Linked DNA regions of Homo sapiens: region 1 is linked to region 2. The links come from fine-mapping of genetic effects on gene expression. A gene starts in region 2. The other region holds a variant in brackets. All regions are shown on one strand. Distances are between the middles of the regions.

Evidence for each region.
Region 1: its variant is fine-mapped to the expression of KCNJ3 in aorta (GTEx, PIP above 0.99).

Annotation. Positions count from the first base shown.
Region 1 is chr2:154,528,009-154,536,526 of GRCh38, forward strand. The region is part of intron 2 of LOC105373693 (a long non-coding RNA gene); the gene reads left to right. Among named protein-coding and RNA genes, the nearest start is that of GALNT13-AS1, 75 kb to the left of the region's middle. The variant T/C (reference allele first, on the strand shown) is at 4,167.
Region 2 is chr2:154,693,747-154,702,264 of GRCh38, forward strand. KCNJ3 (potassium inwardly rectifying channel subfamily J member 3) reads left to right here and starts at 4,949. Exons shown (of 3, transcript NM_002239.4): 1 at 4,949-5,731. The coding sequence starts at 5,030.

The sequences.
Region 1 (8,518 bases), 170 kb before region 2:
CCTAGACTACCTTTCAAGTTTATTTAGAGCCCAAGAGCACTTTAGCCCATGGTGGTGAGGCTGTGGGAACTCCCGTTCAGATGCTGGGATCAGGGATTCCCCTCTGGCTAAGGCTAGCTTAAATGTTCCCTTTGTGGGTGGACATCAGCTGAGTTTGGTCTGGTTTTGTTTTCTGCTATAACAGGGCAGCACTACGTTCAGTGTCTCACAGCTGCTGCGCTTTCCCTGTCCTCAGTGCACAAAAATGCTCTCTGCGCCGCCCTGCAGCTGCAAGGGGATGGGGGAGGGGGTCACATCAGTGATTTGAGACTGGTTTTCCTATCTCTTTCAGTGATATGAAGTTAAAACCAGGTACTGTGAGTGTTCACCTGGCTTTTGGTTCTTATAAAGGTGGTTTTTCAGTGTGTAGATAATTGTTAAATTGGTGTCCTTGTGGGAGGGACAATCAGTGGAGCCTGCTATTCTACCATTTTGCTCTTCCCCCTCCTCCTAAAAAGATTGAACATTAATATTAAAAATACACTAATACAAAACTAAAAATTTTGGTCCCTTATGTTAGAACAACAAGGTTTTCTTAAATTATTGGTTGGCTTTTAATAAAAATACATTTTTAATTAAAAATAAAAATTACATCTTTAAATTTTGTAATCTGTAGCTTTTTGAAATGTCTCAGATATATATCTCAGAAGTTCAATTTTTGCTGTACCTTGCTGCATGTGATTTGTGGTCATACATCATTGCCTTCTGTTCTTTCTCCTCTTAAAAAGATACATTTTCTTGTTTGTTTGTTTGACTGGGATGATAACTCTTTCCTTCAACATTTTTGTCAATTCCTGTAGTTTTTTTCCTCTGGTTCTAACTTTGCTGTCATGGCCTGATGCTGAAATGTTTATTTTGAAGGTCTAGAAAAGCAATGTTTTCTTCACATGTAATGTGATCTGTGCACCTGGCTTTGCTTGGTATGTCTAAATTGGTCAATGTAACCAGGAAGCTTCCCAAGCTGTTACTAAAAGCCATATATTTCCCATTTCAAGGTACTAGTTTTCTTGTTTACATTCCTCGAAAATATAATGTGTACTTGTAACCCTGAACACGGTCTTTCTATGTCTAATTAAATTCAAGTATCCTTTTCATCAGTTTTGACTTCCAGCTTATCCAAATGGGCTTCACTTAAGGAGCTGTAATCACAATACAGGAAGTTTTTCTGGACCTTTTTGACACTGGCATAAAAAAGAAAGATTTTACATTTTATCAAGATAATTCCTGTGTTGTCTTATTTAGATTTTTTTATTATTTAGGAAAACTGAGCTTTCAAAGGTTGAGGTTTTTGTGTCTTTTGATTATTGCTCTAGTTAAATAAATAGTTATTATTTTACGATGACCTGTGATTCTGTTTCAATTAAGTGTTTTAAACCTTTTGACATTTTTGGCAGCTTTCTCCAGGATTAATATCCTACATTAAGTCTCTTGGGTCTAAAATTAACTTTTAGATTTTCCAATTGGGCTTCTGAGAAAACTCACAAAATGTCTCTCATCTTGCAGAGATTAAATGATTAGATTATTTGGTAAATTTTATGTAAAATATTATCAAATGATAGATTACAGTAAATATATAAGCTTTTGTTATCCATAGTTATTGTCTAAATTTTTCTTAAAAACATTTGCAGTCAGCTTCAGTCTAAAATTGCTTTTCATGAAAAAGAATCTAATAAGTATAGGTAAAAAGAGGAGACAATAATAATACAATTAATGAAAGAATATGCAACTGTATGTCCTGGTTTTATTGGATGATTATCATGTTTTTTATTTTCAATCCTTAATTCATTTTGATTTTATTAAGTATATTCTGCTATATATAATTTGTAGTATCTTTGTAGTAGTTCTGTTGAATATTATGTTAAGGGCAGGAAAAGACAATGTTATGTTTGGTGCAGAATAAAGGTGAATAGGCAAAACTTCACTCCTGCTGAAAACCAAAGCACATTTCAAAGCCAATTCAGATTCAGCAGAAGAGGAGATAGTCTCCACTCATTGATGGAGAAGCAGTACAGAATTTGTGGCGGTCTCTAACCCACTACTCTTTCCTTTCAAGCTGACTACTCTCACTTAAGTTTCTCTCATTTGACAGACCCAGGCCCTTCTGCTTATCAAACCCTCTCTTTTGTATGGTTTTGGATTATGTTAGCTAAATGGGAAACTGCATGAAGTTTGGAAGGTGGAAATTAAGTAGTAATCCTTACTCTCCGAAGATCTCTAGTATTAGCTGTGGTGACAAGACAGACTCATGAATGGCAAGATTCCTGCTTGTCCTCACTTTCTTCCACTCCATGTTCAGCTCCTACAGAACTGCGGATCCTGCTAACCAAGAGTGGCCCCAAGTCCCTCACTAGACACTGGCTGAAGACCCATAGAATCAACAGTTTCTTAAGAACTTCTCTACCAGCTCACCCTTTGTAGTTCCACCTCAGTGCCTGCACTTGCTGACTTCTTATAGTGACTGATGGGTATCTCCTCTGATTCTTCTATTCTCTCTTTCAATACTATCCTTACCCATTGCCTCCTCCAAATGTGTAAGGCCTAATTTCTATGACAAATCCCTTATCCCATAACTCTTCAGAGCTCAGCTTCTCTGATTAATCCCTGACAGATACACGCAGATAACTATCTTCTTTAAAAACTTTACAACTAATTTTTAAAATATCTGAAATGCAGCATTTAGAATGATATAAGGAAGAGTTGTAGAGCATTATCATTGATTTTATTTCTATTGCAATAAAATTCTGGGGCCAATTATATTTAGGGAAAAATAAATACAAAACAATATAGACAAAAGTATTTATTGATTACAATGCTTGTATGGAGACTACACTGTATACTGAGGAGAAAACTGTAAAATCAACTGAATAAATAATCTCTTACCAAAAGTCACTTGACTAACTTAGAAGACTCTATTATTTATAATCTCAGCACCTTAACACATAAAGGTTTACTTTTGCTCTCACTATGTGTCCAGTGTAGGCCACTTTGAAGATTTGCTGTATAGCATCACTTGGGTGCACACGCCAATAGAGGCTCTACCATCTTGGAGCTGTGCCATCTGGCACAGGAAGCCTTATAGTGGTAGAGACAACTGGTGAGTTGAACTCCCACTCTTCTATACTTTTGCTCAGAAGTGACACATTTCACTTATTTTCCAGCCAAAACTATTCACATGGGTCTATCTAACTGCAAAGAGGTAGGGATATGTGAGGCTGAAGATGGAATGTTTGATGAGGGCAACTCACTCTGCCATAGAGAGGGAACAAACATTAAAACCTGAAAGACATTTTCACAAAATATCTTAAAGTACAAATAAATAATAAAAGAAACTCTGGGAAGACTGATGAAAAGAGTGATTTAAATTAGTTGATGAATTATTATGGCTAGAAACTTTCTTGAAAAATGAGGACTACTGAGGCAAGATGCAAAGAATATGTTGAGTGTGGATTAGTGTTCGTAGATAGTCAGACCCCCTGGTAAAAGCAGGAAGTTAGAGGTTGATGATGAAATGCTGGAAATTAAGTTCCTATGAGAAAAGATTCTCATACAGGTAAGACAATAATGAGAAAAGTAGCTTAAAATCAGTCACCCAACAGTTAAGGTAGGATGGTTGATGAGAAGGGCTTTAACTGTATGTATTAGTAATTTGGCTCTGCAGGTTAAAAAATTCTAGTGGATTCTGGAGTGTGTGTACATGGCCAAACTAAAAAAAAAAAAGAAAAGAAATTAGTCTAGCGACCATGTGAAGAGTAGAGACAGAAGGCTGACAGTCAAATACATTAGTATGTTCTTACAGGATATTAAAATCTCATATCTGGCTGGGTGCAATGGCTGACACCTGTAATCTCAGTACTTTGGGAGGCCAAGGTGGGCCGATCACTTGAGATCAGGGTTTCAAGACCAGCCTGGTCTATATGGCAAAACCCCGTCTCTACTAAAAATACAAAAATTAGCTGGGCATGGTGGCACACACCTGTATTCTCAGCTACTCAGGAAGCTGAGGCAGGATAATTGTTTGAACCTAGAAAAAAAAAAAACTTCTTATCGCTATGAAACAATTTTTTACTGAAACTAACTGTAAAGTTGTCTGCTGGGTTATATATAGTCTTACGTTCTTGGACAAGTAT[T/C]TCCTTGAACAAACAGCTAAGTCTTGTTGACATAGGTGGCCTCAGTTCTCAGTCCTAATAGTTGAGTTGTTGATAAAAGTGGTTTCAAATCTCACAAGGAAAGTTTGTAGAGAGAATAATAAGACTTAGCAGCAAATTGACTGGAAAAGGGTTGAAGGAGTCTAAATTGACTCCAAGAGTCAATTTAAGAACTTGGAGGATCAGAGGATGCTTTACGGGAAGAGTCTGTGATCTTTGTTGCTAATATAAATGACGTAGAAAAATTATATAGCCTCATGGTTATGAAAACAGGAAACTGAAAATTTAGTATTCAGTCTCCAATAATTGACAGTTGAAATCCTGTGAATGAGTGAATGTAGAAGGAAGAAGAATGGGAGTGAAAGTAGTGAAAAAATAAAGACTTGAAAATTACCTCAGGGATGATAGTAGCTAATAGCCAGTAATGAATAATAAATTAATGCCTGAAAGGGAAAGAAGATAAGAAGGAGAGTGCTATTATGGAAGTTACACATGATAGGTAGATTTATGGTATAAAATTAAAGAGGTAAATGTTTGGCTGTGGTCTAGTATGAGACTTTTATTTCACAAATTAGAAAACTGAGATTAAGAATGACTGATTTAGGCAAGACCATTCCACTGGTTACCAGCAGAGCTAGAATTTAAAGCAGGTCTTAGTTTTTGGCTGGCCTGTGTAACACACCGGCTGGCCACGTCCATGCAAGTAAGACATCAACATGTATAAGCACTTAGAAGAGAGTGCTGGCTTTGCCCTGGAGGAAAGTAATAAATGACTCTCAACTTAACACTTGCTGAAAAGTTATGACAAAACAGACCTGAAAGTGCTTGCCTTGAGGAGTGAAATTGGTGAGGAGAATAAGAGGTAGTGGATAGAGACTACCTATTTGCATAGCTTAGGCAGACTGGCCTGATAATTAAGAGGCATTTGTTTGTATTTAGGTCATCTTAGCTGAATTAAGGCTTAAGCTTTTTTAAGTGAACAATGTATATATTTCATATTTTTAGAACTCTCCAGTTTTATTTCTTCCAGATTTTCTTGTGGCATAGCCTGTCACAAAATTCAACCTTAAAAAGGTCAAACCTATTATAAAGCAAAAGTGTATGAAATTTTTCCTTGTTCTTTCTTTATGCTTTCTGTCGTAATTTTGAATGGTTAATTGGAAACCAACTTCAACTTCAAATGCCCAATTCTAGTGGAAGACAAATGCCCCTTGTAACATGGCTAGCTGACTGTCAGATCTGCTCAGCAAAGCTATGTCCTTACTTATTTGGGGGACCTTGAGAGTGAATTTAACCAATAATACCTAGTTCATCAGTGTAAGGGAGGGCAGGTTTGCTTTCAGCTTTGCTGTCAGTAGATCAAGTACGAAGTAGTCCTTTAACAGTTTCCTCGGTTAGTGTTAAAAATTTCTTTGAGCTAAGGTGCCTGATTTTTACAGTAATTATGAAGGTCCCACTACTATTAGCCCCCAAATAACCCTGAAATCTGTTTTGCCTGCAGGTATAAGGCCAGGCGCTTATACACTCAACAGTCTTTTGGGGGCAGGTTTACGCCTCTCTCTGCCTAATACCAGGGCTTGTGTTCTCAGTCAGGGAAGTCCTGGATCCTTTATTTACCAGCCACTATCGTTAGTGTGAAACATATTTTACTGGGGGGCCATTGTTTTCAACTGTGCTGCTGCACTAGGCCCCAGCAGACCAGACAAAACTAAATAAGGCTTACTTGTGCAAAACGCTACATAATCAAACTGAAACTTTAAGAAAGCTGCTAAATCCCTAAACAGATGGGTTTTCCCTAAAAACAGGAGATTCAAAGCAACCAATTAGAAAAGGCACAGTCAACCTAAATTATCATAATAAGGAAATTCTCTCTGCTCTAACCCTTACAAGAAAAATAATCTGAAGTAAACTGATGTTAACCAGTCCGATTTGTTCTATTATTCTGTTTCTGTGTTCCCATCTTACAAAAACCAACTGTTCTGCCATGACCAGTGGAGCACTCATTCTATTTTGTGGAATAAAATGCTGCCCAATTCTAGAATTACAAATAAAAAACAATTAGATCTCTAAACTAAGTTTGTTGCAATTTTATCTTCTGACATTAGGTAAAACTCTCTAGTCTTTACTTTTTTCCATTTTAAAATTGAGCTAGTAATAGAACTTGTTGTGCAAGATTATGTTGAAGATTAAATGAGAACACATTTGCGAAGCCTTCAATATATTGACTAACTTGATGAAAGCTTCAAAACTAATAAATGGTGGAAATTGGATTCACACTCAGTTCTGTATCTTTCCTTCACAGTAAATATAATATCTGTTTCATGAGTGTAGCTGGTTACTATGGCTATAATTGTTGTGTGTAAAAAAATCTGTAATTCATGTGGAATTGCAAAAGTTAATTAGACCCTACTCTTCTCTGTATCACCATAGCATATCACAATGCAGTTGAAGAGGGGGGATATTCATACAAGTGACAAAAACTACTCAGGAGGCGGTAATATGTGCCAACTGAACAGTGGACATTGGCTGTGTGAGGGAAACTGAAACTATTTCATCCCAAAACATACTTTTTTGACATATTTCAAGATGGCTATTCAGAGGAGCTAGAAATACAAGACTAGCTAAAAAGCTGTCTTCTGAAGGAAGATTTGCATCTGTAGAGGAAATAGTCAAGTAAACGACAGATGCAAACAGACTTTCTCTGAAGGCCCCCCGTCCGTATCTAGAAACCTTTAAAGGTGTGACAAACATTTACCACTGGCTACCATCTATTCCTTCTGAGAGCTGCTACCTGTGAGAATTCATCTGTACCTTATTTAGGGAGGAGAATAGGGCCTGTAGCCAGGGAACCTAAGGATTTCCTAGAACTAAGTCAAATGGAAGCACATCAGCTATGACAGGAAACATTCTCTTCATTTACGTAGGGCGTACACTGAGTAAAAGACTTTGTAACTTTACTTCATCCTCTTCATTTACATAGGGTATACACCAAGCAAATAACTTTGTAACTTCACTTTAGCCTCTTCATTTACATAAGGCATACACCACGTAACCAATGGAAACCTCTAGAGGGTATTTAAACCCCAGATAACTCTGTAACTGGGCTCTTGAGCCCACTCATCCCACTCTCACTCTGTGGAGTGTACTTGCATTTTCAGTAAATCTCTGCTTTTGTTGCTTCGTTCTTTCCTTGCATGTTTTGTCCAGTTCTTTGATCAAGACCCCAAGAACCCGGACACGCTCCACTGGTATCATTATCTGTATAAAAAGAATGCCTTTTCTGCAGGTCTTTCCTCTTCTTCCCATAACCTGTCTTTGCCATGATCCAATCCTCTATTCTTTCTGTAACCTCAAGATGATACAAAAGTGTCAGCATCTTGCCTTTCTTTGGGTTTTTATATTGTGTATGAATCTTGTGTATATAATAAAATTTTTATGCCCTTTTTCCTGGTAATCAGTCTATTATCAGTTTGTTTTACAGACTCAAATTATTGAAACTTCAAGGGAAAATTTTAAACTTCCCTACATGTGTTAAGATTCAGTTTGAAGGAGAGATATGCGAACAGGCAAACTTCATGAAGAAGGGACTTGAGCTAGACTTAGAAGGGGTGGTCAATTTTGAATAAAAAGAATGAAAAAGGGAGAATATTCCAAGCCAGAATTAAGTACAAGCAGAGGAGCTTGTATGGACCAGGGAGATTTGGCTGCTGGAGTGATTGAGTAGAGAAACAAGGAGAAATACATAGAAAGAGAGAGGCAGTGATGAATGGTAGAGCACTTTGCATGCCAGGCTAAAAGTTTGACTTTTCCATGAACAATGGTAAACTGATAAAATGGTTAGTGCTTTTGCATATGTGTTTTATCTTCTGATCAAATTTTCTTAAAACTGCTGTCTGAATTTGTGCCATGTTTTCAGCTGGCATTGGCCCGAATCTTATTAATTAGCTAAAAATCACAATTTCTCTAAGTTTAGTAAGATTTATCTGTCCATCCATTTTATAGTGAAAGCAGAAATCAAAAATGCAGATTTGAAACCCCCTTAGAAAATATTTAAATAAACTACTACAACAGAAAAATTATGAAGAAGAAAATTCCTGACCAAATTATTTTCGATAGGAAAAAGAAAACCTTTATTTATAGAATAACTAAAAAACTGTTTATGTGGAATATTTTCTTTAATATTGTTAGGATAAAGCTACATTAAATCTAAAGTCTAGAAACATAATATTGTCATTGTCCGCTGCTAGTTTTCTTTTCTGTTTTTTTTTTTTGTTTTTTGTTTTTTTGTTTTTTTGTTTTTTTGAGACAGAGTCTCGCTTTGTCGCCCAGGCTGG
Region 2 (8,518 bases):
AAGTATAAAACACAGAATCATATTCTTCATTTTTGAAGTTATAGTTATTCATGATATTACTAATTTTGGACACAGCAAATAAGACACTGCCAGAAGTACTTTCCAGGCAGAATAAATATGTAGCTTGCTCCTAGCCGAGTTTGTTAAATATAGCTTTGATCCCCCCCACCCTCATGAACTGTATGGTAGTTTTCTCGTAATCTACCACCCTATCTTTAAATGTTAGACTCCAGATGATTTTGTATTCTGCAGTTACATTTTCCAGATCTTTTCTGGCTTTGTGGCCTGGCCTGAAATTGTGTGCCTCTCTCTCCTTTGACCCATTCTGCTTGCAGTGTTTCACTTCAGTTCATCAGACAGCACCTGATTAGGAGGCCTTCCATCATCCATTCCCCACACATCCTCCTGGCCTCTGCACAACGGGGCTGGCTGCCCTCCAGAACCTCATCCTGGAAGCAGCTGCCCTCACAGGAAAAGATGAGTTTGGTTCATCTGTGAACATTTTCAAGGAGTTGAACTCAATGTCACAAATAGGTCAAAGCCTCAGTGACATTTAAAGTGTGACAAAATGGCATCCTTAAAAATATTTAATTTCCCTGGCAGGACTGTGTCATTAAAAGAATAGAAATCTTGACAATAAGCAGATGTGTTTTGGAATCCCTGCTTCACTGCCTATCTGTGTAATATAAATGCTAACCTGTACAGTTCTAAGCACATTACCTGGCACATTAAAGTAGGTTCTTAATAAATTTTGGTTCTCTCTAAAACTCTATCAAGTGTTTATCATGCGTAAGGCCAGTTTGGATCATGGAATACCGGATGGTACCAAATTATTAAGAAGTCGATGCTCAGGGTGCTCAGAGGGAATCTTCATAAATTCTAAGCTGAAATACCAGTTAGAATGTGAAAAATGCCACATTGCAAATCTAGGGAAATGAGAGTTCAGAGGAGGGATGTATTACTCTTAGTGGGAGTATATAAGGAAAAACTTTATGACATCAATAGCAATTGAAATAAAATATGAAGAAGTCCTTCCCTTTCCTTACATACTAGTGCCTATTATTTGAACTTTGCAGGTGTAGAAAAAAGATATTCTAAGTGATGAGAAAAAAAGTGAGCAAATGAAGATAATATAGGGCATGTTTGAGAAATACCTAATAGTCAAAGTTGGCTAGAGCAAAGTGCCCATTAAAAGGAAGGTAGGAGATAATTTGGAAAGCTAGATTATGCCATGTGTTGGAGAATCTTAGATTTCACCTGCATGAGAAGCTAGGCCTATAAAGGAAGAAGGCCTTTGCCACGAATCAGGAATCCTAGGCTCTTTTCTTACTCTGCCACTACCTGGTAAGGGACGGTAGAGCATCCAGGTTCTACAGTCATATTGTTCTGTGGTCAAATCTGTTTCCACTTATCAACTCTGTGACATTGAACAAGTTATTTCGCCTTTATATCCCCAATTTCCTCACTTGTAAAATGAGAGGATTAGACTAGACCATGTCTCCTGAAGTATAAACTTATTTGTTTATAAATTTGGTTGCTAGAAAATGGCAAAGGTTTTTCATGAAAAAGTGTTTTTCAAAAAGTGGGAATGTTTTAAGATCTTCCAGATGAAATAACTGGAGAACTTTTATTTTCTATAACAATACTAAACACATGGTTTAAGGTGAGAGATCTAGTACTACTATCCTGGGCAGTCTGCAGGAGAGGAAAACCAAATAAAGACAAGAAAGTTATTTGAGTTGGGCCTAACTTGAAATGAGAATTTGAAGAACAGTAGTGACTTTTTTTTTTTAAAGAGAGGGGGAATTATGAGGGATATTGCAGCAATAACAATAAAAAAGACTTGGAACCTGATTCAGTATCATTTCTAAAGCTAACGAGCATAGGAAGTATTACTCTTTTTCAACAAAAACTTACATGTTTTTTATATTGCCATATAAGTGATCTGATTTAGTCATTACTTTTATTTAATTCCATATTACTCAGAGAGCTTCAATGCATGTAAAGTTTCCAGTGATATAGATTGGCACATATTATTGATCTAATAAATATTTATTGTGGACCTAGTATGTGATACTTTTCTAGGTACTGGAGACATAGCAGAGAACAAGACAGATGAGGTCCTTGCTCTTGTACAGCTTACATGCTACAACTGATAATGGTGGAAGAGAAAGACAACAAACAAATGAAGAAAATGGTAGCTAAAAAAAAAAGTGAGATGAGGAACATAGATAAGGTTGATGTGATGGGAATACCTGAGATGCTAGGGAAGGCTTCCCTGAGAAGGATGCATTTAGGTTGAGAGTTGAATGAGTGAAGGAGCGAGCAACACGGAGCGGCAGAGCAAGAACTTTCTAGGTAGAGGGAACAGATCTAGTGCAAAGGCCCAGGGCTGGAGCTATGCTTTGGTGTGTATCAGGAATTGAAAGAAGCCAAGCTGCCAAGGGCATAATGAGCTTGGGGGAGAGTAGTCAGAGATGAGATGAGAGTATAGGTGTTAGTTCACAGCATGCTGCCAACTCCAAAAGCTCATTTGTAATCTCTTCTTGGTCTTGTTGCAACTTTATAGCCCACTATATAACATCCTTCATAGCAGAAATAAAAAAAACACATTTACTCTCTTTTTTCATACCAACACTAGGAAAATGTTCAAACTCCCAATTTCTCAGGGGAGAAAATTAGGTCTCAAAGTTGTTCAGCTACTTGCTCAAGGTCACACAGCTTGTAAATGGCACAGACGCGACTCAAATCAGGTCTTATGATTCTAGGACCAGAGAAGTTTCCACTTCCCACGGTGTCACTTTCCCTTCTTATGTAATTTTAAGAGAACAAACAGATAGTTACTGACCTTTTATCAGCGAACTGGCAGGAGAAGCATCTGTAACTGAGGATAGATGTTTTAACCAAATAACAGTGAGAGTCCCCTGCTTATGGCTGACAACCTGACATGCACTTTCCTGCAGTTGGTTTATAAGTAGAGAGGTAGAGAGGAGTACCTATTGGCAGAGAATGCATAGAGTAATTATGTACTTATTTTCCTTTCCATGGGAATCTTATAGCAGCCTTTTGCTTTTATAATGCCATGATTTGATGATTTTCCAACAAAATCAACTTCATGTATCTGGGCTGACTGAAATATGCCTTAAGATACCATGGCATTTTAAAGCAAACGTGAAATGTGGTAAACAAGCTGGTATTTACTCATGGGCACTCTATTAGCTATTTCTGCACTTTGCCCCTCCATTAAGTTAACTGCCAGGCTGAGGCCATTAAAATCCAGCCTTCTTCCTTCAATTATAGGCACACATTAACTCTAGATATTCTGAGCCTTTCTAATAGAGCCATTTGCAGAAAGGATTTCTATTAGTGTTTCTCTCCTTTCTGTTCTCATCCTAAGGCCCCTCCTGCTTCCTGCAACTTTGAGTTCTGAATATGCCTATCTGAGAGCCAGTTGGGATCTCTGTTTATGATGCAACCCCAAATCCAGGCATCCGTTTAAACGAGTGCCCAGTTACAGAGACATATTGTACTTCTCTTCCTTCAGAGAGCAGCATTTGCTTTTTACTGGGGGCTTTCTGACTGATGCAGGGGGCGAGGAAGGAGAGTTGGCGGGCGTTTGGGAGCAGATTTAGAGCCGCTTCTCATTGGAGGGGCTCGCTTTTCCTGAGCTGCCAGACACTGCAGGCTCAACTGAGGCTCGGAGGTGCAATTCAGGCTGGTGGAGCAGCGGGGGAAGGCAGGGACAGGCGGGGCTAGCGCGGCTCTGCAGCTGATCACACGCACCACCACACACACCACATTCCTGCTGCCCCGGCTTGCGCCTCGCATCTTCCACCCGGGGCCACCGAGGCGCTGACAAGGAGTGGGGGACCGAAGAAGGAAGAGGCAGAGGAAAAGCTAGAGCGGCGCTACTGTTTAACCTGAAAGTCTGACCGGCAGCCCAAGGCTCGAACCCCGTCCAGCAGCACCGCTGTCGCCTGGAAGGAGGGCACAGCGCCAAGGAACCCACGAGCCCCCGCTCGAGTCATTCTGTGCTCTGTGCGCCAAGGATCTTTCTGGCAGGGACAGCGCGGTGCCCTCAGGGAGGTGCGGAGCTTGGGGGACCTGCATTGGCGCCCATCGTGGTACACCAGGAAAAGTGGGAACGAGGAAAACAGCCGTGAGCGCAGAGTGCGAGGCCAGGCTGCCGCTACCGCCCGCTGCGCCGCCTCCTGCCCTCTCCCGCTGGGTGAGTGCCCAGGCTTCGCGCACTGCCGTGTCTCAGCTGAGCGCGGGGGCGGCCTGCGGGCCCTTGAGGGTCCGCCGGAGGGCCCCGGTGGCGCCCGCGGAAACTCGGCGGTCGGGGGACGCCAGGCGGACAGGTCTCTGGAGTCCGGAACCCGGGAATCTGAGCCCGGAGGGCGTGGGTAGGGGGCGTTGCACCAGTGCCCGGCAGACATGCCTTTGGGCGGGATTTTGGCTAAAAGATAGGAGACAGGTGCGCCGGGGGTGCGGGGAGCGGTCCCAGGGGGCGGGAGATTGGGGAGCGGCGGGGAGGGGGGAGGGTCTGGTCCAGGCAGGTAAAGGCAGCTTCTTAGGCAGCCAGCGAGTTGGCAGGTGGGTTGGGACTCGCTTGTCAACTCATTAATTTTAAGCAGTCAGTTTGGGGGTACTGCAGGATAATCAGGAGGGCCGTGGGGAGTCAAGAGGTGACCCGGGATGCCGGTGGTGGGGAAAGAAAAGAGGAGCCTCTGGAAGCTTGGAGGCAAAATTGCGCTTGGGTTCCTGTTCCTTGCATCCCTCCTGGCTTGAGTGCGGGAGAACACTTTTTAAAGACTCACCTTGGAAAGAAGGCCTCCGTCCCAGGGGAGAAGGAGAGGCGTCTGCAGGGGGCAGAGACCGCAGCTACCTGCCGGGTGCGCCCCCCACCCAGGAGCGCTCGCTTCGCCCCCTTTCCTCCCCCGCCCCCACCTCCTTATTGGTGCTAGTTTGCAGCGCCCAGCTCCTGCGCCTTCGCTTCGCGTTTGAATCTGGCTCGCCCCTTCGTATTATGTCTGCACTCCGAAGGAAATTTGGGGACGATTATCAGGTAGTGACCACATCGTCCAGCGGCTCGGGCTTGCAGCCCCAGGGGCCAGGCCAGGACCCTCAGCAGCAGCTTGTGCCCAAGAAGAAGCGGCAGCGGTTCGTGGACAAGAACGGCCGGTGCAATGTACAGCACGGCAACCTGGGCAGCGAGACAAGCCGCTACCTCTCGGACCTCTTCACCACGCTGGTGGACCTCAAGTGGCGCTGGAACCTCTTCATCTTCATTCTCACCTACACCGTGGCCTGGCTTTTCATGGCGTCCATGTGGTGGGTGATCGCCTACACTCGGGGCGACCTGAACAAAGCCCACGTCGGTAACTACACGCCTTGCGTGGCCAATGTCTATAACTTCCCTTCTGCCTTCCTCTTCTTCATCGAGACGGAGGCCACCATCGGCTATGGCTACCGATACATCACAGACAAGTGCCCCGAGGGCATCATCCTCTTCCTCTTCCAGTCCATCCTGGGCTCCATCGTGGACGCCTTCCTCATCGGCTGCATGTTCATCAAGATGTCCCAGCCCAAGAAGCGCGCCGAGACCCTCATGTTCAGCGAGCACGCGGTGATCTCCATGAGGGACGGAAAACTCACGCTTATGTTCCGGGTGGGCAACCTGCGCAACAGCCACATGGTCTCCGCGCAGATTCGCTGCAAGCTGCTCAAAGTAAGTGCTCCCCGCCCCTTCCCCACCGGGAGACCTGCGTCCCCCAAACCCGCGGAGTAACTCGTCTGAGAACCAGCCCGGGCCCCCTCCCCTGGTTCTACCTATAGCCACAGGTAAACTTCCTTTTGGGGGGTTGGGGGTTGGAGGACTGGGCAAAGAATGCGGTTGACAGTTCTGTTCCTTTTCCACTCACTCTCGTGCTCTTGTTTATATTCGTCATTTCGGATCTGCTTGTATCACTTACTGGACTAGTAACACGTGAGGACTGCTGTTGGCTCCTGGAGCCATGAGGGCAATTAGTGCCCTGTTCGCCTTCCTGTCCCTGTTGCTTCGCTATTCAGAGCGATTTTATTTGTTGTCTACACACTACCCCATTCAATGCGAGGTACTAGAACTCAACTGAACAGCTGTTATTTTGAAGAAATAGGTGCTGAACTTGCCTCAACTTTCACGATGGGCTTTTCTTATTTTTTTCTTTCCTTTTTTTCCCCCTAATAATATTAGGAGGCGGATTACTCCTCTGGACCCAATGACTTTAACTCTATGGTCATCTTTTTAACAAACACACAGATACAAGAAGCAGATAGTAAAGTGGAAGAAACCACACTTGGTTCTTTTAAATTTTTATTTTTACTAAATATTTTCTTGGAGAAGTATTCTTTGAAAGCTTGAGTGCTTTTCCTGTAGAGCCTCTTGTTAATTTTATTCTTAATTGCCTGTTTCTGTGAAGCCTTTGTCAATTACAGATTTCACTTGAAGCTTTCAGCATCCATTAAAGAAGAATTGCTTCCTACCATCAACGGTGTAAATGCTAAAACAAATTGCACATGGAGTGGTTATTAAAGCAAGGTCCGTCTAGTCGTTAGAGGGCACCACCACAAACAAGAGAAGTCCTTCTTAATCACTCATCCAATTAGAGTATGGGAAGGAAGGCTTAAAGCCCAGTTGTTTGTCTCTGTGTGTGATTTACAATTCATTTTTTTCCCTAGAGGGATTTGTCTTAGTAGTTTTCAGATGTCCATAAATTGAAAAAGATGACCTTAAATAAATAGTTCGTACAATGAAAAATATTTATCTGAGGTTGCGTAGAGAACTGAAGCCAGAGTCTGAATTTAGTATTAATAAAATGAAAATCTGATCAATATTTGAGATTTTGCCTTTGAAATTTCAATTTCCAATCCACAAGTATATATTGTTTTACACAGCCCCAACTTAATGTTGTAGTTAAAAGGGATCCAATGTGCTTTTAAAAAGTTTTGCTCTTGTGTCATTTTCATTATTCACTTACAAGATCTTACCATAATTATCCTTGACCAAGTTGCTCAGTAAAGTGTTTAAATTAAAGCAGTTCACTTGTCCTGTCACATCATATCATATGCATATTTACTGTGCTACATACAGTAAATAAACTACATTTTGTACACCACAGTGGAAAATTATCAACCTGGTTCTGATGTAAACGTTCATTAACTATGAATAAATAATTTGGGTAGATCATATTCATATATAATTAATTTCAATGAACTGCATACAATTTTTTAAAATTTAACTTAGTGTATTGTTATTGACCGCTGTTTGAACCAAGCAGTTTGTCAGATCAAGCTGGGCAGTTGTGTTGTAGATATGTTTATTACAATAGTAACTGTATGTGTCTTTAGCTTTGCATAGACCACAATATAGCACCTGCTTCTTTAGGTTAGGCCTACTAGACAGATAGAAATACTTTGTTAGTATAGTGGCAAGGTTTCTGTTCAAGCAATCCATGTTTATGTATCACTTTGAGACTTACTGAAGAGTAGTTTACAATATTAACTGATGTAATGGAAATTGACAATTAGACATTAAAGGTTATTTATAGACATTCTTTAGTTTTTTAAACATTTAAGGTTATTTATTACAGATGTCTTTTCCAGACAACATATTTTTGATGTTTATAGATTTTATTACATTTTATTTCAACAAAGCCAGTCATAATTAGAATTAACCTATATGTTAGTTTTTGTTTATTTTCTTCATACAAAGGTACAATGATTCTGAAGCACTCAGTCTCTACACTGGTGCAGGGTACTGATAATAATTTTTCTGCCTAAGGAAATGTACCACATATACCATAAAGAGTATCCTAGTTAAAAAGATGAAAGATGTATAGTGTCGACAAATTTGGAGCAAGGTGCTATATTAACACAAGGTGATAAAAACATCTAGTTAAAACAATACATATAATATTCTTATAAAGTCTTTTACTTTTGATTTGTTAGGAAGATGTCAGTGCTAGAAGTAAACACGATTTACCTGTGGCATCAATTTATATTTAAACAAAATTATGGTGAAATTCTCCCCATGGCGAAGGGAGAGAGTTGATCTGTGAGTAGCTCTTCAACTAGTCAGTTAGCGTAGCTTGTTCAAAGTTAATCTTTCCTGTAGGCATGGTAATTTAAATGAATTGCTGTAGTTCCTGTTATTCCTTAGACTTCATTAAAAAGGAGTCATGTTTTATTGGGGAAATAATAACATTCAGCAAAATTAGAGGGGAGATTTGCCTTTAATAAGTTGCTCTCATTTTCTCTTAAGAACTGAGATTAAGTGACCTAAAACAGTCAACTGTATTTTTAAATAGAAGCTATACCAAAATCTTGGCATAATAATATGTCCCTATCAGTTTTATACATTATTCTGATTAAATATTACACACAATTTCCCCCTTTTAACCTCCATTTAACAATTTAAATGCAAAATTTATGTGTCTTTAATGCAGAATGTGTAGAATTTTTAAGGCAACAAAATCCA